Homo sapiens: one gene and its partners. The protein of the gene in region 3 interacts with the protein of the main gene of each other region in a pairwise test. Each region holds a gene or a part of one and is shown on either strand. Other genes may lie near its edges.

Evidence for each region.
Region 1: the proteins of CT55 (region 3) and GPRASP3 interact in binary tests that used the Homo sapiens proteins (3 or more experiments, as listed by UniProt).
Region 2: the proteins of CT55 (region 3) and CABP5 interact in binary tests that used the Homo sapiens proteins (3 or more experiments, as listed by UniProt).
Region 4: the proteins of CT55 (region 3) and BFSP2 interact in binary tests that used the Homo sapiens proteins (3 or more experiments, as listed by UniProt).

What each region holds. Positions count from the first base shown.
Region 1 is NC_000023.11:102,715,906-102,723,755, reverse strand, and holds the start of GPRASP3 (G protein-coupled receptor associated sorting protein 3), read right to left. Parts: upstream 3,014-7,850; 5' UTR 2,931-3,013; intron 2,800-2,930; 5' UTR 2,665-2,799; intron 2,393-2,664; exon of another isoform or gene 1-2,392. Other genes in the region: ARMCX5-GPRASP2 (G-protein coupled receptor-associated sorting protein 2), read right to left, coding at 6,370-7,850; GPRASP2 (G-protein coupled receptor-associated sorting protein 2), read right to left, coding at 6,370-7,850. UniProt on the Homo sapiens protein: Survival and differentiation promoting protein that plays a role in the regulation of neurosynaptogenesis. Induces phosphatase PP2A activity which results in APP dephosphorylation and inhibits BACE1-mediated processing of APP.
Region 2 is NC_000019.10:48,041,055-48,048,135, forward strand, and holds the start of CABP5 (calcium-binding protein 5), read right to left. Parts: upstream 3,026-7,081; 5' UTR 2,869-3,025; coding exon 2,806-2,868; intron 550-2,805; coding exon 519-549; intron 1-518. UniProt on the Homo sapiens protein: Inhibits calcium-dependent inactivation of L-type calcium channel and shifts voltage dependence of activation to more depolarized membrane potentials. Involved in the transmission of light signals.
Region 3 is NC_000023.11:135,161,395-135,168,419, forward strand, and holds part of CT55 (cancer/testis antigen 55), read right to left. Parts: intron 1-7,025. UniProt on the Homo sapiens protein: Plays a role in spermatogenesis, possibly acting in the regulation of the autophagy pathway.
Region 4 is NC_000003.12:133,466,048-133,473,072, reverse strand, and holds part of BFSP2 (phakinin), read right to left. Parts: intron 6,246-7,025; coding exon 6,114-6,245; intron 729-6,113; coding exon 508-728; coding exon of another isoform or gene 504-507; intron 1-503.

The DNA of each region.
Region 1 (7,850 bases), about 32 Mb from region 3:
CATGGTTGGTCCTTCTGGTGACCAGTCCCCATCCTGAAGCTATCTAGGGGCCCACCATAAGTCACTTCATTAGCATAACAAAGATACTCCTGTCACACAGGAAATTCCAAGATTTTTTGAAGCTGTGTCAGCAACTAGGGATAAAGATCAGCTATATTCTCTATTATACCACACCATACTTGAAGTCTTCTCTGTTGACATACTCGAAAAAACACACAGAGACAAGAGACAAGACAGCTTGAGTAGAAAACCATAAGCTGAATGCTGGCCCCAGTACTTATATTATCAGAATTCTGGAGAGTAAAGAGAAGAAAATAATAGGAGAGGGTAGGAGACGAGGATGCAGTCCTAGGGACTAATCTCTACCTATGATTTTGCCCCACATACCTTGTATCTATCCTAGCTTTTAAGTCTAAATAGGAGGGCTTAAAGTAGTAGAACAACATAGTTTCAACTCTATAAACTTGGTATAAACATAAGGATAGGAGTGGGATTAGAAAAAGTCATTTCTTCCTAGCAACACTTTCTTACACTGACTTTGTATGTATTGTGATATATGAAGAAATCAGCATTTGATCTTTTTTATTTTGATTGAAATTTGAAATGAGTTATTTTTAAAATTTTTTAAAATTTTTAATTCACATGGATATGCAATATTTGTACATATTTATGGGGTATAAATTATATTTTGATATAAGCATAGAATGTGTAATGTAATTGAGATATACATCACCTTAAATATTTATCATTTTGTTGCACTGAGGACATTCCAAATCTATTCTTCTAATTATACTGAAATATATAATAACTATTGTTAACTATAGGCACCCTATTGTGCTACTGAACACTAGATCATATTCCTTCTAACTGTATTGTTGTACCCATTAACCAACTCCTTTTTATACCCCATCCCCAATACCCTTTCCAGCCTTTGGTAACCATAATTCTTTGTCCCATATTCCTGGCATAGAGCTCCTAGAACCCTTGCTATTTCCTGATAGGGATAACGGAAGCATCTTTTGTTACATGTGGCTTTAGTCTCAAGTTCTTGACACTAAGACCCTTGGAATCTCTGGAGTGATAGGTGTCTTTTTTTATGTTCCGAGATGACTGGTGGGTGCACTAGATAGCTTCAAGATATGGATGGTCACCAGAAAGACCAAGGCATGATTAGAGGGTTGGAACTTTCAGCCTCACCCCTTGACCTCCAAGGAGAAGAGAGGGGCTGAAGATTGAGCTAATCACCAATGGTCAATGATTTCATCAATCACGCCTATGTAATGAAACCTCTATAAAAATCCCAAATGTCTGAGAGGTTCCAGGTTGGTGAACTCATTCATATTCTGGGAAGGTGGTGTACCCCAAATCCACATGGATGGCAGCTTCTGCATTTGGGACCCTTCTGGACCTTGCCATATGTACCTCTTCATCTGGCTTTTGATTTATATCCTTTATAATGAACCAGTAATAGGAAGTAGTGTTTCCCTGAGTTCTGTGGGCCCTTATAGCAAATTATTGAACCTGAGGAGGGGGTTGTGGGAACTTCCAACTAGTAGCTAAGTCAGACAGAAGTGTGGGTGACATGGAGATCCATTACTTGTGACTGTTGTCTGAAGTGAGGGAGGGCAGTCTTATGGGAATGAGCCCTTAACCAGAGAGGTCTGCACTAACTCTGGGTAGTATCAGAATTGAATTAAATTGTAGAATACCTAGCTGATGTCCTCAAAGAATAAGAGAATTGCTTGGTGTGAAAAATCCACACATTCTGTGCCAGAAGTATTGTGGGTAGAGGAACCATTTTCTTTCACTTGGTACCCAGTGGGTGCATGGGGTAGGGGGAAAGGAGGATACTCGATGTGAAAGAGGACAAGGACTTACCATGGGGCTGCTACCTAGGATGGGACCAAAGAAACACATCCTAAGGAATGAGCAGAGATCACAACACAAGAGAGCAAAGGGTATGCAGAGGGAAACTTAGGAGACTATCCATGAAGCAGTTTCTGTAGGTGGTCCCCAGAAAGACCCTCCTCTGAGGCCCAAGACAGCAGGGAGAGAGAGCTCACACGGAGTAGCAACCCACTTTGTGTCCCTCAATGGGAATGAGATCCTGCTGCATGGGGCTGAGATCCAGGAATCCCCTTGGGGGTCGAGAAGCTTGGAGTATCCTAATGAGAAATCCTAGGTGAAGGGCCCACAGCATCTAGGTTTCCTCCCCTCGAGTCTATGTCTCCTCCTCCTTTTCCTAGAACTGCCGGGATTGAGGTTCATTCCTCTCTTGCATCCCCAGCCAGCTGGAGCCTTGGAGCAAAAGGCAGATGTATGTGTTCTCTTCTGCCCTCCTCCACCCTCCGCCAGTTTTGAGCTGGTATCAGCCATCCCCACTGCCTGAATACTGCCAGTAAGAAGACAGAGAGTAGAATGAGTGCGGACGCATAGCTCACGGTTCCCATCCCCACCCCTGCCTTTCCTGATCCAGCACCACAGGTGTTCACGAATTGTCACTTCACCATTTCCCCGCTCTGGGCTCCCCTGAAGCCAACTCCATCCATATGCCCACCTCCCCCACCCACACATACAAACACAGGGCACTGGGCTGGGAGCCTTGGGATGAGGGGTCAAGGGTGTTCAAAAGGCAGGAGGGAGCAGGCGGATCTGAGGCATTACCTGCACCCGCATCTAGTCTCAGTCACCACCTCTCAGGGATGCCATCTGCCGTCCTTGCACCCACCTCCTCCAACAGCAACCGCTGCTCCTCTCCACGAACGCGTCGGGCAGGTAGACTCTCTGCTTCTTGAGCTCCTGGACAAAAGACAGACGGGCTAAGACGCTCCCGGTTGGCTGACGGATTGTTTCCTTTACCAACAAATGCTGTAGTTCCAGTCGCCTGAGAAATTAGTTTTCAGGCTGATGCAGCATGGAAAGACACCTACCTACCTTAACATCCCGCCGTTCCTCCCACGTTCTGCTCTGCGGAGCACAGGTGTCGTCCGCCTCTCAGGTCTTTTCTGGATGCAAGAAAACACTCCTCTCGGCAGGCCTAATGCAGAGCCTGGTCACATGACCCACCGTCAGCCCCACGTGACTGCGCAGTCAGCTTGTTCGCCGCAGTCCTGTACCATGGATGACAGTCTTCTGCCTCTGGGGTGCTTGCTAGAAGATCCTGAAGCTCCTTGGCCAGACAGCTGGAAGGAAGGCTGGCCTTTGCTCTGGAGGACCACTCGGCTGGCGAGGAACATTCGATGAGGATTTGGGAAATGAAGTGATTTTTAATATTTTGTATACGACTCAAGCGACATACTAAAACACACACAGATCTGTCTTGAAAAATGCTGGTAAGCAAAACAAACATTCAAACTCCAATTTGCACCACCAGGATAATCCCTGTTAAAACTTATGGCTTGCGATGGGAGGCAAAACTGCCACTTCCATATTACCTTACCAAACTAGGATCAGGTGGGGAAAAAAAGCATGTTGCACTGTCAGAAAAATTATACCAAACTTAGATAAAGTCACCTTCAGTTACTGGATGTCATTTCAGGGCAGTGCAGGATGTCTATTGATTTACCTATTTTTCAACTCTGTAGACACTGATGTTAACATGTAGATATTTTATTCAATAAATATGTAAATGATTTATGTCCAGTGCAATAGAAAACCTTAAATGTTACAATTTATTGCCCTGTAAGATATTAACCCGTTTTATATTTAACCTGGCAGTGTTATTCTAACATTTATTAATTTCCTATGTGTTTATGAAATTCAATGTTTTGTTTATATCTTCATATTGTGTATATTGTATATACACATATACCCTTCAACTGTTTTCTTAATCCTAGCAGTTGTTGATTGTGTTGAAAAATCTTTCACATATTCTTTTTACATTTACATGAATTGTAATTTTACCTTTGAAAATTTAGAACATTCTCAGACAAATAAATGTTATGTCTAAAAATAATAAAACATTGGATATTTCTCGTACGTCTGAATTTCCTCTCCAAACCAACATATAGCCCTGTCTTCCAATTCTCCTGACTGAAGGTATTGTGTGGTCATTTTTTAAATTATCGTGGCAAAATACACATAACATAAAATTTAACATTTTAACCATTTTAAAGTATACAACCCAGTACATTATCAATGTTGTACAACCATCACCACTATCTAGCTCCAGAACTTTGTTGTCACCTCAAAAGGAAATGTTATGTTTTTTACGGTAATAATTATGTGAAAAAGGTGCCATTTTTGTACCATGAACAGACTAATATTAAACTTAACACCCTTGGTAATTTTTTTTTTTTTTGAGACGGAGTTCTGCTCTGTCACCCAGGCTGTAGTGCAGTGGTGCGACCTCAGCTGACTGCAACTTCTGCCCCCCAGGCTCAAGCGACTCTCCTGCCTCAGCCTCCCCAGTAGCTGGGATTACAGGCGCACACCACCATGCCTGGCTAAGTTTTTGTATTTTTACTAGAGACAGCATTTCGCTATGTTGGCCAGGCTGGTCTCGAACTCCTGACCTCAAGTGATCCACCCACCTCAGCCTCCCAAAGTGCTGGGATTACAAGCGTGAGCCACCGCGCCTGGCCCACCCTTGATTATTTTATTTTATTTTATTTTTTTTGAGACAAGGTCTCACTCACATCACCCATGCTGGAGTGCAGTGGTGTGACTATGACTGACTGCAGCCTCAACTTCCTAGGCTCAAGTGATTCTCCTACCTCAGCCTCCTGAGTAGCTAGGACAAGTGCGTGCCACCATGCTGGGCTAATTTTTTTTATTTTTAGTAGAGACAAGGCATCAATATGTTGCCCAGGCTGGCCTTGAACTCTTGAGCTCAAGCAATCCTTCCGCTTCGGCCTCCCAAAGGGCTGGGATTACAGGTGTGAGCCACTGTGCCTGGCCAATTTTAATTTTTATCTTGAAAACGTTTTATAAAAAGCTAGTCTTTCTGATAGCTCATTCATTTACAACTTTTCTAAATGATATTATCTCTAATCATTTTTTAACACTTATAGTTTATTCATTTATATAATTCTGTCCTTTCCGGCATGCTCATCTATAACTCAAGGCACAAAATGTAAGCATATTAATTTTTTAATTTGTCTTATTAATGTTTGTATCTCCCCAACGCCTGTCTCTAAGCATTTTTTAACAAGGTATATATTTTATTCCAGACTGTGTTTAGAAATTCATATTGAAATTGCATAGGAATTGTGTACATTTACAGATGTTTTAAAAATGGAATCTAATTTTCCATACATGATGTCACATTCTCTGTTTCACCAAATATAAAATAATTAATGTCCTTTTGTGTCAATAAACCTATCCATACATAATCATTCCAACGGCTGCATGGTATTTCCTTAACACTTTCCTTTGTCTAGGAATATAAAGGAAATCATATTCCCCACTCCATTTAATTGTGCTATCCTACTCTTTCAGCCTTTAGGTGGCATTGAAGTAACACCTGTACTTTGAATTGTTAAATATGCAGATTTGGCTTATTCTGTTCCCCAAATTGGCCTCTTCCCAACTTTCTAACTGCATTTCTCATCAAACTCCTTTTACTTGTTTCAAGCAGACTGGGTTCATCCATGCTACTAGAACAGATTATTCAATTACACACTTTTCTTCAAACCACCACTGCCCACTTCCAAGAGCAACCTAATGATTTGTCTTATCCTACCCTTAGGCAAATCCCAGGGCTAAGATGGTAATTTAAATGGGTCCTATAAGAAGTATTAATTTTAGGTTGCTTGTTGGGAAGGCTCATAATTGGGCAAGCAGGCGGGCAAGTTGTCTTGCTCTCCTATCCTGACCAATTTGTTCTATCCTGACCAATTTAAGTGGGTCCCTCTTCTCGGAAACATTCCTCAAGTATCAGGGCCCACAATAATCTCTCCCTTCTTAACTCAAGAACAGAATTTTCTAATAAGCGCATGTTTGTCATACTAATAATTACCTATGTTTGTAAGTGCACACGATTTATCTGTACATGGTTCTTAAACTGAAGAAGGGTCACTTATGCCAATTTTAACATAGAACTTTATTGAAAACACAGACTCAAATAGAGAACCATATATTTAAACAACGAATAGCAGGGTAGCTTACTTAGGTGACACAGTTCATTGAAAACTTAATACTGAAAAATACCGCAATCTGGACAGCAAGACAAATATCAACAAATGTGTTTTCAGTTTTGATATTCATTTGGCATCCACAAAATGATCCAGCTCAAAACAAGAGTTTGACAAAGTTAACATCAGCATTAAAAAATATAAGTTACAACAAAAAAACAGACTGTGAACACCAAAGCACTACTCAGGGCTCTTTGGGAACATAAGGCTGATCAGCGGCAGGTGGTTAATCATATTAACTTTGTTGTCCCACCTCAGGATCATTTTGGTTGTCTATTTGGGCTTGTAGTTGCTTAGCTAACTCCTCAAATTCACGAAATGCAGAAATAAGCGGCTCAAGACTGAAATCATCATCAATTAAGGACATCTTTCCACTTTTTATAATGTTACTGATATTCTGAAACATTTTAATAACAATTTGAATATTATCATTTGTCTCTTCTATGTTAAAGAGACCCACAAATATTGAAAGAGCTTTGGCACTGAATAGTTTTTTTGCCACAGCAGGATTTTCAGACAAATTCAATAGCATTTTCAGAACGTGAAACTTCGTTCTCGCATTGGCTGTGGTTAATAAGGAGAGAAACCCGGACATATAGTTGGCAATCAGTGTGTGATAGTCAATAGTCATAGTGAGGTGTCTAAGCATCCTTATTCCAGTCAGCTGCTCAAGGGAATCCACACTATGTGCAAGGGTTTCCTCACACACTTGACATATGAATGTCTCAATCATGTTTAGATTTGGATAAGGTGGAGCCATGTGAATCATATTTTCCAAAAAACTTGTCCTAACTCTAGAGGATGGATAATTAAGCAAGGTTTCAATAAGTGAGACAACACCTGAATCTCGAATGAAATCTCGGGTAAATTGAGAAGCACTTCTCATACCCATTGCAATTTTAGATATTTCATGAATAAAAGGATCCCGAATTTTGTCCATTAATAAAAGGAATTCTTCAAACTCTTCAGAACCAATTTTCAGCTCACATTGTATGCAGCTGCAGGACCAACTCTCAGACTCTGCACTCTCCCTGGCCCTAAGATGCTCTCGAATTTCCCGGACTGACCGGTAGGAAGGATCATACTGAAATGTGAACTCAGGACTAGGCTGATCAGGCTGAAGCAAAGATTCCTGCTCTTCTCCTTCTGGGCTAAGTTCCAGGTTCTTGGGCTTTGCCTCAAGCATTTCAGAAGCCTCTTCGGGAATTCCAAAGGGGCTTGTGGATCGGAAGCCAACCCCATGAAAAAGACCAGGTTTGAATTCAACAGTGACCTCGTCCCAGGTTTGGGGCCTGGAGGATGCATTAAGCTCCTCAGCTGCATCTCTGAACCTATCACTGACCTTGTACACAGGACAGGGATTTAGGTCAAAGCAGGCCTCATCTCTGTCCCAGAACCAGGACCCAAATATGGCCTCTTCTTCAGACTCCGGCTTGGCCTCTTCTCTGGCCACAGCCCCCAAACTGGACTTTTCCTCAGCCCAGTACGCGGATCCGCCAATGGCCCCCTCCTCAGTTCCTGGCTCAGATTCACAGATTGCTGAAGCTCCACCCTCCAAACTGGCCTCTTTTTCTGCCCAGAACCAGGACCCAATAATGACTTCCTCCTCAAACCTGGGTTCTTGTTTGACCCTATCACTGTCAACATCTTTCTGGGCCCTGAGTTTCAAGGCAGTATTAGGATCTTCTTTGTCTCTGTGCCTGAATCTACTATTGG
Region 2 (7,081 bases), on a different chromosome or scaffold from region 3:
TGATCCCAGCTACTAGGGAGGCTGCCTCAGCCAAGGCAGAAGAATCGCTTGAACCTGGGAGGCGGAGGTAGCAGTGAGAGGAGATCGTGCCATTGCACTCCAGCCTGGCAACAAGAGCAAAACTCTGTCTCAAAAAAGAAAAAAAAATTCAAAAAGGAGTGATGTATGAAATGTGTTAGCAAAAGAGGCATCATTCCTGAGACCACTAAATGAGAGCACTGGCGTCCTTCAGATTCCTGGATGAAGTTATGGGGAACCTCAAAGTCACCAAGAGAGAAACTCATTTGTTTTCACTCCTGAGTCTTGGAGATACTTGAGGATGGATATGCCTTCGAAATACTTTGGGAAGTCCTTCAACTGCCACGAGAAAGAGTTCTACAAAATTACAGTTGAGTGGGAAGAGAGAGGGATTGTAAAAATTCCATGTAATGGAATTTATACGGAAATGCACAAAGGGACTGAGGGCAGGTCAGGTGGGTGGATGGCAACGTGGAAGCAACTGGGGAAGACGGTGTTACCTTCAATCTCATCTTGTCCCAGTGGTCTTTCCTGGAAAGGAATGCAGATGAGAGGGAATTTGGAGAGAGGGTCACCCATTCTCCAAAGGGTCTCCTTGTTCTCCCAAGCTCCTCCCCACGCTCTCGTGGTTCTCTTTCCATTCTCTCTCTCCTCCTCCATCCCTCCCATTCCTTTTCCCATCTCCTGACTCCTGTTCCACAGTTCTTGGCTCCCCACCCCCCTCTCGATGTCTCTCTCCCACCCACGAATCCCAATCTCCCTTTTTCTCCCTTTCTGAGACAAACACCCATCACATTGTGTCAAAGGGGGTCTTAAACACTGGGGAGTCCAATCTCCAGATGAAAAAAGTGAGACTTCACAACCACAGCTAACTCATTCAGAGTGGTGACTCTGTGCCAGGCAGTTTCCACAATCATTTCATTTAAACCTCAGTACTGCTCTGTGATGCAGATCTACATCTCGTTTCCATCTTACCCATGAGAAAGCTGAGGAACAGAGAGGTTAAGGAACCTGCACAAGGTCACACAGCTCACAAGCAGCAGATCCCCTCCCAAGGGAGGAAGGCATTCACCTGCTCCCTGGAGGTCATGGGGCAAGTCAGACACAGTATTGGGATTTGAATTCAGGGCTCCTGACTCCCAAGTCAGAATTCTTCACACTAGCCCCCATTCACTCCTTTCTCACCTGCCTCCAATCTTCCTGCCAAAGGTTAGAATCTCTGTGCATGGAAACAGCATTCAATGGCTTTCAGGCAGGAGGGTCAGTGCCAGCATGACCAGTTCCTAAACACTCTGAGAATGTCCAGTTATTGCTGCCCCACCTACTCCTGCACATACCTGAAGGGTTGGGCTTACATATACATGGCATGTTAACAAGGAAATTCTACTGACCTCTGGTCTCTTTAGCCTTCCCATCTCCCTTTATCCCTGGAGCCTTTCCCTCAGCTTCTCTTTCATCTGATCCCCTCCTTGCGGTCCCTTATCACCCTTTTTTTCATTCTCTCTCTCTTTTTTTTTTTTGAGACACAGTCTCGCTCTGTCACCCAAGCTGGAGTGCAGTGGCACGAACTCGGCTCACTGCAACCTCTGCCTCCCGGGTTCAAGCGATTCTCCTGCCTCAGCCTCCCGAGTAGCTGGGATTACAGGCGCCTGCCACTGCACCCGGCTAATTTTTGTATTTCTAATAGAGACAGGGTTTCACCATCTTGGCCAGGCTGGTCTTGACCTCCTGACCTCGTGATCCACCTGCTTTGGCCTCCCAAAGGGCTGGGATCACAGGCGTGAGCCACTGCCTGGCCTTTTTTATTCTCTTTTTTTGGTGATCTTAAAGCCTAACAATGAAAAGTATGCCCACATATCTGGACAAGTTGGTATATATGGAAAAATAAAAAAATTTTAAAAAGCATGCCCACAGGAATCAAGCAAACCCGACCCTGCCACTTACTTTTTTTTAACGAGACAAAGTCTCACTTTGTTGCCCAGGCTGGAGTGCAGTGGCATAATCAGGGCTCACTGCAGCCTCCACTTCCTGGGCTCAAGCGATCCTCCTGCCTCAGCCACCTGAGTAGCTGGGACTGCAGATGCATGCCACCATGCTGAGCTATTTTTTTGTATTTTTAGTAGAGATGGGGTCTTGTGTTTCCCAGGCTGGTCTCAAACTCCTGGACATAAGTGATCCTCCCGCCTCTGCCTCCCAAGATGCTGCGATTCAGGCATGAGCCACTATACTTGGCCGACCCTGCCACTTACTAACTGTGTAAGCTTAAGGCAAATGACTTCATGACTCAGAGCTTCACTTTCCTCACCTGTAAAATGGGAATGAAAGTCACTGACCTCATGAGTTGTTCTGAGGTGTAAATAACATCAGGTGTGCAAATCCCTTTGCACAGGGCTGGGCACAGAACAATGACTTAATAAGTGGCAGCTATTGTTATTAACGTCATCATTATCATCACCACCACCACCATCATCACCACCATTATCACAATGAGCATCCATAGAAAAGAATGATGGTAATCTCAACAATGACATCATCCCACTTTCCCTTTTCATTTTTCTTCCTTTTCTCTCCTTCTCTTTGCTCCTGACTTTTGATTTTACCCCCACCCATTTATCTCACTGGCTTACATGACCCCACCAGGGTCCTTGGAATTTCTTATACCTTCTCAGCTCCTGCTCTATCCACCTGTTCCCCTGGTTCTGTGGCACCATCATGTCCCCTTCTTTGTCCCACACCCCTGCTCCCTTTGCCCCGCCCACCGCCCTTCCCCCTCACTCCCCACCTCACCCGCTGTTTCTCAGCAATGCCTTTCCTCAAGAAGATGCAGGCGGGGCCCATGGGGAACTGCATGGAGGGGTGGGGTGGAGCTCGCAGGGCACCAGTCTCAAGATGGCCCCTCCTCCCTGCTCCCTGTCGGAGCTCAGCCTCCTTATCTTCTCCAGCACTCCTTTGCCACCTCTTCCTGCCTCTCTTGGCTTCTCCTTCGGTCCCGGTGTCTTAGAGCTGTGACAGCTGGGCTGGAAATCTCTACCCGGGTTGGGGAGGGACCAGAGCTGTCCCTGCCTCCCCATCTGGCTTGAATGATATGGGTGGGGAAATGCAGAGTCAGGTTCTGTGACGCCTTTATCCCCAGAGTGGAATTGGAAAGTGCATTTTATAAATGGGGATTAGAGGCTGGATGTGGTGCTCATGTCTGTAGTCCCAGCGCTTTGGGAGGCTGAGGTGGGAGGATTGCTTGAGCCCAGGAGTTTGAGACCAGCTGAGCAACATACGGAGAGGCTGTCTTTACAAAAAATAAAAAAATTAGCCGTGCATGGTGGCACACACCTGTAGTCCCAGCTGCTCCAAAGGCAGAGATGGGAGGATTGCTTGAGCCCAGGAGTTCAAGGCTGCAGTGAGCTATGATTGTACCATTGCACTCCAGGCTGCAGTGAACTACGATTGCACCATTGTACTCCAGCCTGGCTGACATAGTGAGACCCTGTCTCGAAAAAAAGAAAAAAAAAGAAAAAAAAGAAAAGAAAATGGAGGATTAGAGCAGACGGCATCATTTATTCAATGTTCCAACAAGCATGTGAAGGGTCACTCCAACACTGGCCTCTGGGCAGTGAGATGGAGAGCTCAGCACCCCTGGCCTCAGGGAGTTTTCCTGGGTGAGTCGGGAATGTGTGAGAGTGAGCAGGATGCAAGCATGGACTTCAGGAAGTGGGCGTACACGGTGACTAAGAGCATGGCATTTGCTCTTCCTCTGTTCATCTCTTTCCTTCTGTCTTTCCTGAATGATTTAGAGGGAAAAAGCAAGGTGGGGGTGTCAGGGAGGGTGTGAAGTTATGGTGGTGTCAAAGCCCAAAGGGGTTTTGCGACTCCACACTAGGTAGGGTTAGGGGAGGAGGGGGCTGGGGGCCATCTGGCGTGGAGAGCCAGCATTCCAGTGGGGTAGTGGGGTGAGGAGAAGTCCACATAGAGGGGCAGCATGACCCAGGGTGTTGGGGCTGGAGATGGTGGGGATAAATCCACAGATGGGCAGCTTGGTGTGCAGTGTTGGAACATGAGCTGAGTGGGGCGGGGGCATTTATATGCAGGCATTGTCTGGGGTGGAGGTTTGCACTGTAAGGCAATTAGGAAGGAGGCCACATAGAGGGGATCTGGCATGGGTTGTCATAACCCAAGCAGAGAGAGAAATGTCCACTCATGGGAATAGCATGGTGTATGGTGTTGAAGCCAGACTAGGCTGGGAAAGACATCCCCACAGGGGTGAAATGGCAAAGGAAAAGGGAAATTGGCTACACACAGTGAGTAAGGGGAATGGGGGCCAGGTCTCCTACTGTTGGAAAAGGGAGTTACTAAGACAGAAAGGAGGAAAGTCGAATGAGCCCTGTGGTGTTGGACTATAACTGGAGGCGTTGGTATGTCCTCATGGATCTCAATTATACATAGAGAGATAAAAATAAACACATAGTTTCAGTGTGTATAGGAACATTTGTACACATATTCTCTAGCTCTCTCCACTAAGAGAACATAGAAACAATGATGGCCCATATGAATGAGCACCACTAGCATCCAAATCTTGACTTCTATATACCATTCTCCACCAAATGGAACCAGAGTGCCTAGGAAATTTGGCTGATTCCATGTCTAGAGCAAAAAAAGAACAAGATGAGCCTACAAACGTCCTATGCTTAAAGCAAGAAATTGCTCAAAGTGTTGTGAGAACATGTGGAAAGAACACAGGAGTCTGCTTGAAGAAGCTCCATTGGCCATACTGGGCAGTTTGAGAGTCAAAATAAATAATGATAGTAACAAATTATACAGGACCACAGAAGAAACCAGGAGTCCATACTCAGATAAATAAAAAGCTAAGTGAGAAGTTTGATATTTACAGAGCTCAAAATACCTCCCTACAAAATACCAATTTCAAAGGAGTTACGTTATAGTGGAGAAACGTGGCAAACACCATCTTAGTCAATGAAAGTGGACATCATCAGTAATGTGACAAGTTGGAATTTCACACCACCTGACAGGATGTCACGAGAACAGCATCGCTTCTGTAAGATTCCTGAATCTCATCATAATCAGACGTCAGACGAACCCACATGGAGGGATGGTTTACAAAATAACTGGCCTGTAAGCTTCAAAAATGTCAAGGTCATGAAAATCAAGGAAAGATTGAGGAACCGTTCGAGATTGGAGGAGACTAAGAAGACATGGCCGAGGCTGGGCGCGATGGCTCACACCTGTAATCCCAGCAATTTGGGAGGCTGAGGTGGGCAGATCACCTGAGGTCAGGAGTTCGAGACCAGCCTAACCAACGTGGAGAAACCCCGTCTCTACTAAAAATACAAAAAAATTAGCCCGGCATGGTGGCACATGCCTGTAATCCCTGCTACTCGGGAGGCTGAGGCAGCAGAATCGCTTAAACCCAGGAGGCGGAGGTTGCAGTGAGCCCAAGATCGTGCCATTGCACTCCAGCCTGGGCAACAAGAGCAAAACTCTGTCCAAAAAAAAAAAAAAAAAAAAAAAAAAGCTACGACTGAATGCAACACAGAATTCTGAACAGGATCCTTCTGCTATCAAGGTCTTCTTTCGGATGACTGGTGGTTTGCTGGCAATAGTTTGGCGGCCCTTGGTCAGTAGAGCCTCACCCCAATCCCTGCTTCCATGTTCACATGGTTTCCTCTCTGTATACATGCCTGTCTCTGTCTTTAAATCCCCCCCCCTTTTTTAAAAGAATTTTATTTCAAATCTGGGATACATGTGCTGAACATGCAGGTTTATTACATAGGTATACATGTGCCATGCTGGTTTGCTGCACCAATCAACCCGTCACCTAGGTATTAAGCCCTGCATGCATTAGGTATTTGTCATAATGCTCTCCCTCCCCTAAATCCCCCCTTTTCTTTCCTTTTTTTTTTTTTTTTTTTTTTTTTTTTGAGACAGAGTCTTCACTCTGTCACCAGGCTGGAGTGCAGTGGCATGATTTGGCTCACTGCAAGCTCCACCTCCTGGGTTCAAGCGGTTCTCCTGCCTCAGCCTCCCGAGTAGCTGGGACTATAGGTGTGTGCCACCATGCCCAGCTAATTTTTGTATTTTTAGTAGAGATGAGGTTTCACCATGTTGGTCAGGATGGTATCAATCTCTTGACTTTGTGATCCACCTGCCTCGGCCTCCCAAAGTGCTGGGAGTACAGGCGTGAGCCACTGCGCCCGGCGAAATCTCTCCTTTTCATAAGGACACTAGTCATTGTGGATTAGGGTCCACACGAGTGACCTCATCTTCACTTGATGACATTGGTAAAGACCTTATTTCCATGCAAGGTCACATTCACAGGCACTGGGGGTTACAATGGCCACATCTTTTGGTGGGGGTGGGACACACAATTCATCCCATAACAGTCCTGCTTTAATTCTGGAAAGCCTGTATGAATAATAATTGCTCTGGAACTCCGTCGGTGCCAGACTAACTATTCTAAGGTCTTGAGACTCATGAACTCATTTAAGCCTTTCTAGGATACAGGCTCCGTGATGGTCTATTCTACAGACGATGGAACTGGGGCATGGAGGCGAAGGCTCTTGCCCATGTTCTCATGGTAAGCAGATAACAGAAGTAAGATCCAAACCCAGCTGTGGAACCACCATGCTTAATTGCTGAGATATAGATGGAAGAAGATGGAAAGGAAAGGGGGAAGGGAAGAAAGGAACAAGTAAAGGGTACACAGAGGGTGAAAAGGGCCGCAGCAGGGGTGGTGGCAGACCAAGACACACACACACAGCTAATCCATCAGTCAATCAGCAAGCATTTATTGAGCACTTGTTGTATTCTCAGAGCTCCACTTGGCTGTGGAGAGATAGCCCATGATTTAAGCCCAAGTTCTTACTTCTACAGAGCTAACTTGTGCAGAGCTACTGGCTAGAAGTGCAGTCATAAAGGAGCAGTGGAAGGCATTGGTCTGAACTATCACATTCATTCTGGCCATCTGGACATTGGACATGATGCTTCTGATTGTCAGACACTCATGCTCCAGCTCCAGGATCTCCCGAGGGACCTGCAGGACAAATTTCACCAC
Region 3 (7,025 bases):
TTGGCAGTAACACTCATCCTGATGTTTTTGTCTGTGCACAAATATATATACATGTGTAAATGCCTGTTTTAAAAGCAAATTAGCATGGTATTCAGTGTTAAAGTATCACATTAAATGAACACAAAAGTTTTTAAATAACAAGAGAGGACGGAAAGAGTCATAGGGAATCCCAATTAATGGATGTGCCGTAATTTACTAACCCAATTTCACATAATTAGACATTTCACTTGTGTCATAGCATTTGGACTACTTGCCTGACTTAACTATAGGATAAAATCCTAGGGTTGGCATTTGCTGAGCAGAGACTTCTGATGGAAACTTGAGCCACTGAGTTGTAAAGAATTTTTCATGGTTTTAAAAATAGCCTAGTTTGCTGCTATTCTCATTTCTAAACTGGTGTCTTTCCAGCTGTCAATACCAATCTGATGTTTATTATCCCCTCACTTACTGTCATGAAGGAATGAGGCATTAGCCTCCCATCCACATATCTATCACCACTTCCGTCAGTATCCCAGTGGATGATCCACAGCACCCTCGGACCTCTCTGTTCCTTGACTCCACGCCAACTCACAGACATATGCAGACTAAAGCTTTGCCCATGTCTCATGGCTCCCAGCTCTGTTTCTTATGCCTTGCAAAGACGACCAACACAACAGCCGGTACAAATAGATTCAAATGTTTACGATAATGTGTTGTATGACACAAGTGGCATTTCAATAAAAAGGGGCAATGTGGATTATACAATTAATGTTGAGGGACAACTGAGTAGCCAGTAGTGAAACAAGATGTGGATCCTTCTCTCAGTCCTGCACATGAAAAGCAAACCCAGGCTGGCTGTATGTTTAGATATAAATAAATGAATGACTTTCAGAAGAAAAGCTAAGTGAATACTTGTGTAAATTATGTCTTAGAATTAGCCTAAGGATACTTCCTGAACCCAGAAGCCACATGGACAAGATGGACATATTTATAGTATGTAAAAATTAAGCAGATAGAGGAGGAGGGGAGCAAGATGGAGAAATGGGACTCTCCAGTGATTGTCCTCCTGCAGAAACATCAATGTGAAAAACTATCCTTGTATGAAAATATCGTCACTTGACATAAAGAAACCAGGTGAGAGACCATGGTACCCGGTTATAGCATGAAAATAAGAAAACATGCACTGAAGAGGGTAGTAAGGACAGTTTTACATTACCCACATCACCCCTTCCCCGACCTTCAACAGCAAAGCATAAATAGAGATACCATCCATCCAGAGGAGAGAGACAGTAGCAAGCATAGGACATTGCCTAGGAACCCAATATCAGGCCACCACTTGACAGATGCCCATGGCCCCTGACTCTCAGATGGTACTTGTGGACAGAGTCTCTAGACCCACCCTGGCACCAGACAGGAAGCCACAGCCACAGCAAAACAAACTCAATATCTGGCCCACATCTCTCCCTAGTGATTCCAGTGGCCTTATGCTCAGAATAATCTACAGCAACAGGGAGTTCTCAGTGAATGGAGGCTTGGATTCCAGTCTCACAAGGGACCAGCCTCAATAGCTAGGGGAATCCCAGCCATCCTAGCACCTGCCGCTGTGTCCCTGTGAATAGGCATCCCCCTAGTGCTTCAATAGCTGTAGTGTTCACAAGCATAAGGACCAAAAGAGACCTATATAGAGTTTCTGGACAGGCTTACTGCTAAAGGATGTCCCCTAAAAGCTAGACTGCAAAGACCGAAATGGATACCTACTTCTTCAATACGCAGATATAAACACATTACCACAAAGATCAAACACAATAAGGAAAACATGACATCACCAAACTGACAAAACAAGGTGCCAGCAATTGACCCTAGAGAGACAGGAATATATGAGTTGTTTAACAAATAATTCAAAATATCTATTTTCCACATGCTCTGTGAACCTTGAAAACAATTACAGAGAAATGATTCAGGATTTATCAAAGTAAGTTGCAGGAAAGATTGAAAGAATTGTTAAAAACCAAGCAAATCCAGAAGTTGAAAAATACAGTGAAGGAAGTACACGATAGAGAACATCCAAAGAAGAATTGATTGAGCAAAAGAAAGAATCTGTAAACTTGGAGACAGGTTCATTGAAAATATACAGTCAGAGGAGACAAAATTAAAAGGAAGGACACGGAATGAAAAAAAACTAGATTTCTGGGACAATATCAGAAGAGCAATAGTATGAGTCATTCACATTCAAGAGGGAGGAGTGAAAAAGAGGTAAAAAGATCATTTAAAAAATAATAATGGAGAGCCATCCAAACCCAGAGAAAGTTACAAACGTCTAGGTACTGGAAGACCAAAGTTCTGCATTCAGATACAATCCAAATAAGATTACCCCATGACATATTAAAATCAAACTGTCAAAGATGAAAAATAAAGAAAGAATCCTGAGAGCAGTAAGAGGAAAGAAGCAAATCACATATAAGGCAGTTCCAATATGCCTACCAGAAGACTTCTCAGCAGAAGCATAATAGGCCAGGAGAGAGTAGTATAGTATACTTTAGGAACACAAGGAAAAAAATCTCTAAGCAAGAATAATGTACCCAGCAGTGAAGGGGAGATAAAGACTTTTACAGAGAAATCACAGCTGAGAAATTTCCTCACCACCGCAACTGTCTTACAAGAAATGCTAGGGAGAGTTCTTCCAACTGACGTAAGGGACGCTAATGAGTAATGCAAAAACATCTGAAGGTATAAAACTCACCAGTAAAGGTAACGACACAAATTCAGAATACTCTAATAAGGTAATGGTGGTTTCCAGATCACTTATATCTTTCATGTAAAGGTTAAAGAACTGAACTAGTAAAAATAAAATAAGTACAATAATTTGTTAAGGGATACAAAATATAAAAAATTGTAAAGTGTGAAATAGAAAACTCAAAATCCCAGGGTGGAGTTAAATAGTAAAGTGTTTGTATTTTGTGATCAAAGTTATGTTATCAGTAAAATAATCTGCCGTGATTATGTTTCCGTAAGCCTCATGCTATCCACAAAGAAAAACATCCTGTAATAGACACACTAAAACAAATACAAACAAAACCACAAAACACACTAATAGAGAAAAATCTCTTATCCATCAATGAAAACAGTAAAAGAGAAAGAAAGGAAGAAATTACCTACAAAATAGATAGAAAAAAATTATCTAAATGACAACAATAAATCCTTACCTATCAATAATTACCTTGATAGGAATGGATGACATCCCCCAATTAAAATGCACAGAGTAGCTGAATACATTTAAAAAGCAACAACAAAAACAATCAAACCTATGAGAGACCCACTTCTCCTTAAAGGGCATTCGTAAACTGAAAGTGAAGACATGAAAAAAGATATTCTTCCATGTAAAGGGAAACCAAAAGAGAGCAGGAGCTGCTAAACTGATTTCAAATAAAATAGAGTTTAAATCACAAACTGTAAAAAGAGACCAAGATCATTATAGAATGATGAAGGGGTCAATTCATCAAGAGGATATAATGATTTCCAAAAATATGCACCCAACATAGCAGCACCTAAATATATGAAGCAGACATTAAGGTATAAATGGTGAGATAGAGTGCAATGCAGTAATAGTAGGGGACTTCAACACCCAACTTGCAGCAATGAACAGATTGTCCCGACAGAACATTGACCCCACAAAAAGTGGGATTTATCTGCACTCCGGACCAAATGGACCTGACAGTCATTTACAGAACATTCCATCCAAATACTCCAAAACACATATTCTTTCCAACTGCATGTGGAACATTCTCGAGGATAGATTATGGGGCAGGTCATAAAACAGGTACTAGCAAATTAAGGGAATTTGAAATAACATCAAATCAGTTCTCTAACCACAACGGTAAAGTATTAGAAATCAATAAAAGTAGGAACTTTGGAAACTTTAGAAGTGGATGGAAATTAAACAACATGCTCCTAAATAACCAATGGGTCAATGAAGAAATTAGAAGCAAAGTGTAAACATTTCTTGAGTTGAAGCAAAATGAAGGCACAACATACGAAAACCCATGAAATACAGCAAAAGCAATTCTAAAAGTGAAGTTTACATCAATAAAACCTACCTCAAAAGAAAAGATACATCTTAAATAAACAACCTCACACTGCACCTTGGGGAACTAGAAAAACAAGAAAAAAATGCAATGCAAAATTAGGACAGAAATCATAAAGGTCAGAGCAGAAATAAATGAATAGAAATGAGAAGAACAATACAAATATCAATGAAACAATGACTTGGTTTCTTGAAGAGGTAAAGCAAATCAACAAAACTTTAGCTAGACTAAGGAAAAAAGAGAGAAGATTCAAATAACTAAAATCAAAGATGAAAAAGGACACAGCACAAATGACATCACCAAAACAAAACGTATCATAAGGAAGATTATGAACAATCATCTGCCTACAAATAGGACAAGCTAGAAGAAATGGCTACATTCCTGGACACATACAACCTACCGAGATGTAATGGTGAAGAAATGGAAAATCTGAACAGACCATTAATGAGTAAGGAAAGTGATTCAGTAATAAAAAATCCCCCATCAGTGAAGAGTCCAAGACAGAATGACTTCCCTTCCTAATACTACCAAATTTATATATAAAGAAGAATAATTAATAGCTATACTTTTAAACCTATTCCAAAAAAAAAAAAAAAAAAAAAAAAAAAACGGACAAGAGACGAACACTTCCGAACTCATTCTGTCACAACGCATTACCCTGGTAGAAAACCCAGATGAGGAAACAGAAAGAAGAGAAAACCAAAAAAAACTACATGCCAAAATTCCTGATCAACACAGTTGCAAAATCTTTAACAAAGTATTAGTAAAGCAATTTCCACAGCACATTAAAAAAATCATTCACCATGTTCTAGAGGACTTCATCCCTGGGATGCAGGGAAGTTTCAACATACACAAATCAATAAATGTGCTATATCACGTGAAAAGAATGAAGGAAAAAAGCCATAGGTTCATTCCAATTTCAGCAGGAAAAGCATTTGATTGAATTCCACACCTCTTCGTGACTAAAAACTCCACAAATTAGGTATAAGAGGAGTGCACCTCAACACAATAAAGGTCATATATGATAAACCCACAGATAACATCATACTGAATGGGGAAGTGTTGCAGGCTTTTCCTCTAAGACCTGGAACAGGACAGAAATGCCCACTTTTGCCCTTTCTATCGCACATAGTTCTGGAAGTGCTAACCAGAGAAATTAGGCAAGAAGAAACAAAAGGCATCTAAATTCAAAAGGAAGAATTTAGATTGGCCCTGTTTGCAGACGGGAAGCTGTTACTTATAAATAACCCTGAAGACACCACCAAACAGCTACTAGGTCTAATAAACAAATTCAGGAAAGTGGCATGAGACACAACCAACATACAAGAATCAGTAGTATCTCTATACACCAATAGGGAACTATCTGGAAAAGATATCAAGAAACAATCCCATTTACAACACCTTCAAAAAAATTAAAATAGGAATAAATTTAACCAAGGAGGTGAAGGATTGCAACACTGAAAACTATAAACCATTGACGAAGCAAATTGAAGGAGGCAGGAATGAATGGAAATATATCATGTGTTCATGAACAGGAAGAATAAAATATTGTTAAAATGTCCGTAACCTAAAGCAATCTATAGATTCAATGCAACTGCTATGAAAATACCAATGACATTCTTCTTGGAAATAGAAGAAATACTCCTAAAATTTGTATGGAACCATGAAAGATTCCAGACAGCTGAAGCAGTCTGGAATACAAGGAACAAAGCTGGAGGCATCACACTATGATGTCAAAACATATGACAAAGCTATAGTAAGCATAACAGCACAGTACCAGTATAAAAACGGACACATCAACCAATGGAGCAGAATACAGAGCCCGGAATTAAATCTGTGCATTTACAGTCAACTAATTTTTGACAAAAGGCCCGAGAACACACAATGTTGAGAAAGTACAGTCTCTTCAATAAATGATGTTGAAAATAACTGGATATTCATCTGAGAAAAATGAATTTCCACCCTTATCTCTCAGCGTGTATATAAATCAACTCAAAATGATTTAAAGCTTTAAAATGAAGACCCAAAGCTGTGAAACTACTAGAAGGAGACATAGGGGGAAAGCTCCATGACATTGTTCTGGGCAACGATATTTTAAAAACAGGACCTCAAAAGCAAAGGCAAGAAAAGGAAAAATACACAAATGGGATTACATTGAACTAAAAAGCTTCTGCACCACAGAGGAAACAATCAAAGAGTGGAGAGACAATCTATGCGATAGGAGAAAACATTGACAATCTATGTATCTAGTAAGGGGTCAGTTTCCAAAATGTAACTCCAACAACACAATAGCAAGAAAACAAATAATCCTATTAAAAATGAGCAAAAGACCTGAATAGACATTTCTCAAAAGGAGACATACAAATGGCTAACAGGCATGTGAAAAAACACTCACCTTCTCTAATCATCAGGGTAATGCATATCGGAACCACAGAGATACCGAGTCACGCATGTTAGAATGGCTAACATTAAAAAGACAAGATATAACAAGTGTTGGCAAGGATGTGGAGAAATTGGAAGCTTTATGCACGGTTGGTGGGATGTAAATTGTTACAGCCACCATGGAAAACAGTATGGACATTCCCCAATATTTTAACAATGGAACTATCACACTATCCATGAATCCCACTACTGAGCATGTATCCAAAGAGAGTGTCATCAGTGTGTCAAAGAGATGTCAGCACTTCCATGTTTGTTGCAGCCCTATTCACAATAGCTATGAAATGAAAGCAATCTAAGTGTCCATCTACGGATGAGTGTATAAAGGAAATGTGGTATAAATACACAAGGGAATGCTATTCAGCCATAAAACAGAACAGAATATTGCCGTTTGAAATAACCTGGATGAACCTGGAGAATGATATGTAAGTGAGATAAGCCAGTCACACAAAGACAAATACTGCACGGTCACATTCACATGCAGAAGATAAAAAAGTTGATCTCATAGCAGTGTAGAGTAGAATG
Region 4 (7,025 bases), on a different chromosome or scaffold from region 3:
ACCTGTAACCCCAGCTATTCTGGAGGCTTAGGTGAGAGGATCACTTGAGCCCAGGGGTTTGAGTCGAGACCAGCCTGGGCAACATACCGAGACGAGACCCTGTATCCAAAAAAAAAAAAAAGATGCGCAGGGTTTTGAGTGCACATTAGTTTCAGGAGCACTGGTTTATAGCCTCATTAATTAGGTTCTATTACAAGCAACTGAAACATTCCTAACAGCTATTATGTACGTCCTAGGTATACACATGTATGTGAATGTATGTGTGTATATATACATACATAAATATGCATACATATAGAAAATGTATTAGTATGTGAATATATTATATATATTATTTGTATGTGAATAGGAAAGGAAGGACACAGCTAGGCTGTGGGAATGGGTGCCTATGTGAGAGGAAGTCTGGGGTGATTTCTTCTTAAATACTTCTACAGTGTTTGGAAAATAATTATTTTTAAAGCCATGAATATGCATCTCTTGGATAATTGACGCGGAAGCGAGGCTTACCCGCTCTCCTCCCTGTCCAGCAGGGCGTGGTAGGACGCCACGTCCTTCTGCAGCTGGCACTTGCGGGCCAGCAGATGCGCGCGCTCCTGTTGCTGCTGCTCCGCCTCCGCTCGGATTTCCCTGAGCTCCGCCTCCAGCCGGCCGACCACAGCGCCCAGGTTCTGGAGCTCCATGTCATGCCAGTGCTTGGCATCGTGCAAGGTGTTCTCCAGGCCTCGTTTCTACAAAAGAGCGAACCCGGTCCAAACCCGAGGACAACAGGCCGGGCCCTTGAAGAGGGAGGTGTGCAGAGCAGTGGCAGGGGCTGGTGGTAGCCTGGACTATTCCCCTCGTGGCAGGGACCTTGCCAGTTATGGAGACTGATGGGGGTTATTCTTAGTGGCTCCGTGGGAAAAATAAGGAATCCCACTCAGGTCAGACTGTGGATTAGTCTGATTGATCTTTTTGATGGGAGAGAGGGTGAGGGAGGCGAAAAAGAGAAGGAGAGAGGGAGGGAGAAAAGAAAGGGGGTGTGAGGAGAGAGAGGAGCGGGGCAAGAGGGATAGGGATTGAGAGAGACAAATGAGAGGCAGCTTGCAGGCGTTTCTTCAAAGAAATCTTGTTCTCCGGGGCTTTTTCTTCTGATTTCTTCACTCCCCGGGGGACCCCTTCTCCCTCTGCTGCTGAAACCCCATCCATCATTTGGCTGGAACACCATCTCCTCCAGCTTTCTTTCCCAGATCACTGTCCTTAGAATGAATGTCTCTGGCCTTTATATACTCAGCGCTTTCCCCTTTGGTGTTTTAGTAGCACATTTTTGCCCATCCCTTTTCCTCTGCCGTCCCTTCACTTTGGGCTTCCCAGTGCCCACCCTGAGCCCGCTTTTTTTCCAAGGAGCGCATCCTGGGTCTGTGTTGGTCTCCATCATACTCATGATTTGAACATACTCATGAGTCGTCTCCAGGCCACGTCCTGCGTTGATAATTCCACCACCAATCTTTCCTTCAGTAGCTATGGACCTGCCACTGAACTTCTTACTGGAAACATATACTCAGACCTCACATCAAGGTGTCCAAAATGAAGCCACTGGCTGCCTCCTGAACCTGCTGGCTCCCCCTAGTCTATGCTTCAACGGGTGAACCCATGTGAGCTGGAAACCAGGGAAAGATGTGTTCCTGCTTTCCTTCCTTCTCTTCCTTCCAAATGCAACCATCATGGCCTCCTGTATATTATGAGTCCTGCTTCTTGTATCTCTTGAGAAGTTTTCACATTCTGCAGCCACCATGGTCTGGGATTGGGAGCTTGTCACCTCTCACCTGTGGTACCCTCAGTGGCCTCTTAGCTCATCTCCCCACCTCTAGTTCCTCCTCTTCCTGAGTTCCACACACAAATAGCCACAGTACTCTGTCCAAAGCCCAAACCTGGGCCTGTATCTCCTCTGCTTAAACTCCATTGATGGCTCCCCAGGGCCCCTGATATGGCACACACAGCTGGCCCAGTATGTTTCCATCTTTATCCCCACCCTACAGCAGCATCAACACTTCCAGTCTTGGAGTTTATTTGGTCTGTGTTCTTTCCTCCACCTGCACCATGCTCCTCCATTCCTTCCAGCATCCTCACCTCACTCACTCCTACTCATCCCCAAGTCCAAGCTTAGAGGTAACCTGCCCCAGGAAGCCTTCCTTGAAACTCCTCTGCCGCTACCATCACCAAGCTGGGTTAGGAGACCCTCTGTATTTCCATGGCTCCCCAAGCTCATGCATGCTCTTGAACTTATCACAGTGGGCTAAGCTTGCTTATGGGCACGTCTTTTCCACCAGATGGTGAGACTTGGAAGGAACCAAGTCTCTGTAGTCCCAGCACACAAGTCAGGGCCTGGCACAGAATAGGTTCTTGGTATGTGTAGATTGCCCTGGATGATAGCACTTGTATTATGGTTACACTTATTGCACTATCTATGTCTCCCCATTAGACTGGAAACTTCTTTCTTCTCATCTTCCCATGCACCATGTCCTGAAAACTACAGAGCTAATCAATAAACCCCTTTAAAAAACTGTATCTGTGTTCAACATTTTCCAATAGTTTTAACTATGGTTCACCTATACTTTAGCATCTGGCTTTTTAATATAACACACAAAAAACAAATATCTTTCTAAATTGGATTGAATTAAATTTTGATGCAACAAGTTTCTGTACCCTGTCCTCCAGGAGGAGACTTTTTACACCCTTATGACCACTATGGATGAAACAGAAAATTCTGTCACGACACCATCTTGAATCATGACTGCTGTTAGCATGGATCACCATATTACCTTATTTAAATCTTCTTAATTCCATAGGATATGAGAATGTTGAGTCAGATTCTCATCTGTCTGAGGCATATTTATAAGAGGCAAAACGTGATCACTAGAAAATAAATCTAGATCAGTATCTGGTCTAGGGTTATTATTTAACTAATAGAATCTGGAAACCTTTCTATAGCAGTGAGGATGCAGAAATGGCCACCTTGACTTTGAGCATCATTTGTTCCAACCTCCCTGGGTTTTCTCTCTTTGTTTATGCATGAAAGTACTTAACTTGTGACTAGTTGTTGTTGACATTGGATTTGTAACATCTGTGATTTGGGAACACGCTTCACAGAATCACGGTTGGATCATCTGTCTATAGTTTTTGCTCCATCTTCTAGGTGAGTTCTTCATGTGGCCTGAGGTTTTTCCATGGTGACTTAGGACCCACTGCCAACAGGGCATTCATTGGAACCCCAGCCAAAGGTTATATGTGTCTTCCATCTCACCCTTAAAGTCCGAATCCAGCTTCCCCACCTAAGTCCCTGACATTATGGCAGAAAGAGAGGATGCCTGGTTCTCCCAGAGATGCTTGAGCTGGAGTGACTATGATCAGGCTACTGTTGCAGGCAAGTACACTGGCTCAGTCAGCCACGCAGACAGCACCAGCAAACAAGCTGAGATCACAGAAGCACACTTATTCTGCAGGTCTCTGGAGATTTGAAGGGACTTTCTGGGATTGCAAAATCCTCCAGAAAGTAAAATAGTGACCTTCTGTGACTTCTGGCCTTGAATTCCATTCCTGATTTGAGTTGACTGGACACAGAGTTCAGCAGGTCTCAAGCACCATTATTTGTGCCTAGCTTCCAATGCAAATAGTGCCTTATTGGCAAAGGGGGCCGAAAGTCTCGCCAGCTTGGCTGTCTGAAGCTTATATAAGCTGCGGGGGCCTTGTGTGTGCACAGATCGCTCTGACAGAATAACAGGAATGGCTGGATGAACTTCCTGTATCTGAAAACTGTATGAGAGTTTGTTACCTATTTTGTCCCAATCTGTGCTCCTCACCTTGGCTGCAAGGCCCCGTGACCAGAACGATAATCTACTAGAACCAGCAGGGAACAGAGGCAGCCTGTTCTGGGCTATGGGCATAGACAGAATGGCACTACTCTGAAGTTTTCTGGTTGAGAGTGTAAATTATTTTTCCATTTTTTTCCCCAATGGTTAGGACCCTGGGTTTAAGTGAGGTGACCAGGTGGCTGGTGATGCCAACTTGGAGTTACTGTACTAGTAGCTATTATAGCAATTTTATATGATAATTAATAATAGATGGCATTTATTGACTGCTCACTAACTGCCAGGCACTGTGCTAAGGGCTTGACATACATTATCAAATTAATCATCTCAATGACGTTATGAGGTAAATTCTATTACGATCCTAAAGTGGCTCACACTTGCATTGGCAGCTACAACAATTATCTCCACTCCACAATCGCTTTCTCAATGTGACCTTGCCATTGTCTCATCAAGAAGTTGAATTTATTTCTCTCCCTGTTGAATCTAGGATAGTCTTGTGACTGCTTTGACCACTAGAATGTGGTATAAGTGATGTCCAGAGACTTTCGAGCCCAGGTGTTAAGAGGCCTGGTAGCTTCTGTGCTCACTCAGGTGCTATATCAGAAGTTTGACTATGTCAGGCTGTCATGATATGAGGAGGTCTAAGCTAGCTACACGGAGTGGTCACAGGGAGAGAGAAAAAGAGATGCACAATTGAGTCACCAGAGAAGCTAAATGAAGAAGCCATTTTTGGGTGTTCCAGCCCCAGCAGAGGCCACATGATACAGAGAAGAGTTATCCCTGCTGAATTCTGCCTAAATCACAGAATGAGAGAACAAGTGATTCACTGTTGTCTTAAGCTACTAAGACAGTAACTAGATATGATAGCCAAAATAGATCCTCACTTTACAAGTGAGAAAATGAAAGCTGTTCATTCACATAGCTAGTGAGTGAGGAGAGCACCCACCACGAAGTCTACCTCCTGACTCCCACAGCAGGGGTGCTCTCTCCCATCTGCCCCTCCCTCACATTTGTATCAGCTCCTCCACCGAAGCCACATTAACTCTTTGGAGGCAGGGACCATATCTCATTAGTTTTATGTCTCCAAAGCACTTGGTACAGTTCTAGGAACATAGCAAGTTCTCAAAATAATGCTAAGAGTCAGAAGAGCATGCTCATGTGCATCCACACATTGGATCCCCCTAGAAACACTGAGAAGTGGGCTGGACTGTGACTATCATACCCATTTTGCAGAAGAGGAAACTGTGGTTCAGGGATTTGCCTCTTTACCCAAGGGATAAATGGAGGAGCTGAGCCCTTCTGACTCTATTACTCTTGATTTTCCTCCCCTCAGATCCTCAGATCCTTTTCTTATACATGCTTGCACGGACCTACATCCTATCATGCGCCTCATTGACTCCAGGCCATCTCAGCTGCACAAGGATTACATGGACCAACCTTTGATTTGCACCAACGAAGCTGTAGTTAGAACAATGCAAATGACCTCCTGGAGGGGACATCTAAGAAAAGATGTTTAATACCCAAATAGAACTTCAATCCATTCCAGAGATCAGAGGGTGGATTGCTTCATTATTAATACATTTTATTATTTTAATATTTTAATAAATAATTAATAATGAAAGAGACGAGCTTGCAAATCCCAGTGAGTCTGAGAGCTTACTAGATGTCTCAGGTTGGGTTCTCCAGAAGCAGAGCCTGAGTTAGGGATCCTGGAACTCGCAAATCATTAAGGAGTACTCTCAGGAAAAGGGGGAGTGAGGAAAGCAGGACAGGGCAGAGGAAGGCACTAAGCGAGGATGTGGTCTCTGGAATCTGGCTACAGCCTGGTCCTATGGAGAGCTCTATAGCATGGAGCTAGCTCCATGTTGAAGCAAAAGGGCTGGGCTTTTAATTTTAAAGCCCCCTCTTAGTCACTGGCTGAGCCTTGGGGGGCAGGGCCTAACCTTCTGGGCCAGGTGTCCTCAGTGTGGGTAAGGGCAGGTCTCTGGAGCAGTGGGGCAGCTGAAAAGGGGCGGCTGCAGATGTTAACAGTCAACATTTACTGCAGCAGCCTGGTAAGAGATATTTCCGTGGGGCACTACAGTGTCTATTGCACCTGCTGTGATTCAGTATCTGATGATCCTTGGGAGTCAGAAGACATTTCAGGCCTCAAAACTCATATGCTGTGAGATGGGAATCCCCTGGAAACTAAGATCCATAATACTGGAATTTGACAGTAGAGAGTTAAAATTAGCACAAGGACACCAGGTCTTTCCTTGGCCCACTTACCAGGGCACGTAAGGATTCTGTCTCAGCCTGGAGGCTCTGGACTTGGCACGAAGTGTTGTGTAACTCCACCCTGAGGGCAGCTGCCAGCTTCTCCTCCTGGGTCTGGGACATGTGGGCCACCTCCGCCTGTTGCTGTGGAGAGTCAGGTCTCAGTGTGAGCGGTGATGATCAGAAATCTGAGCCCATCCTTCCTTCCCAGCCTTTCTAATCACCACTCCACTGCCTCTAACCAGAGGAAATACAGCTGTCACGTGGAAACATCTTTTTTTTTTTTTTTTTTTTGTTGAGATGAAGTCTCGCTCTGTAGCCCAGGCTGGAGTGCAGTGGTGCGATCTCAGCTCACCACAACTTCCTCCTCCTGGGTTCAAGCGATTCTCCTGCCTCGAGTAGCTGGGATTACAGGTACCCGCCACCAGGCCTGGCTAATTTTTTTTGTATTTTTAGTAGAGATGGGGTTTCACCATGTTGGTCAGGCTGGTCTTGAACTCCTGACCTCAGGTAATCCGCATGCCTTGGCCTCCCAAAGTGCTAGGATTACAGGCGTGAGCCACCACGCCTGGCTGGAAATGTCTTTTTTTTTAAACAGGTCCCTTCACCAACTTGTATACAAAAATGTATTTATTTTGAACATACGATGCCTGCAAATGAAATACAATTCAAAAGATTTCCTACAGACTATAAAGTCTCATTTTCTCCTGTGTCTTAATTATCCAGTTCTCTTGTTTCTAGTTTCTTATTCCTCTTTCCAGAAATAGTTTATATATTTATAAATAAATATGTATTGCCCCCCCCGTGCTTTGGTACTTAAAGTATCTTAGAAATTATTCTATATCAGTACATATTAGGTTGGTGCAAAGGCGATTGCAGTTTTCGCCACTACTTTCAATGGCAGAGACAGCAATTAATTTTGCA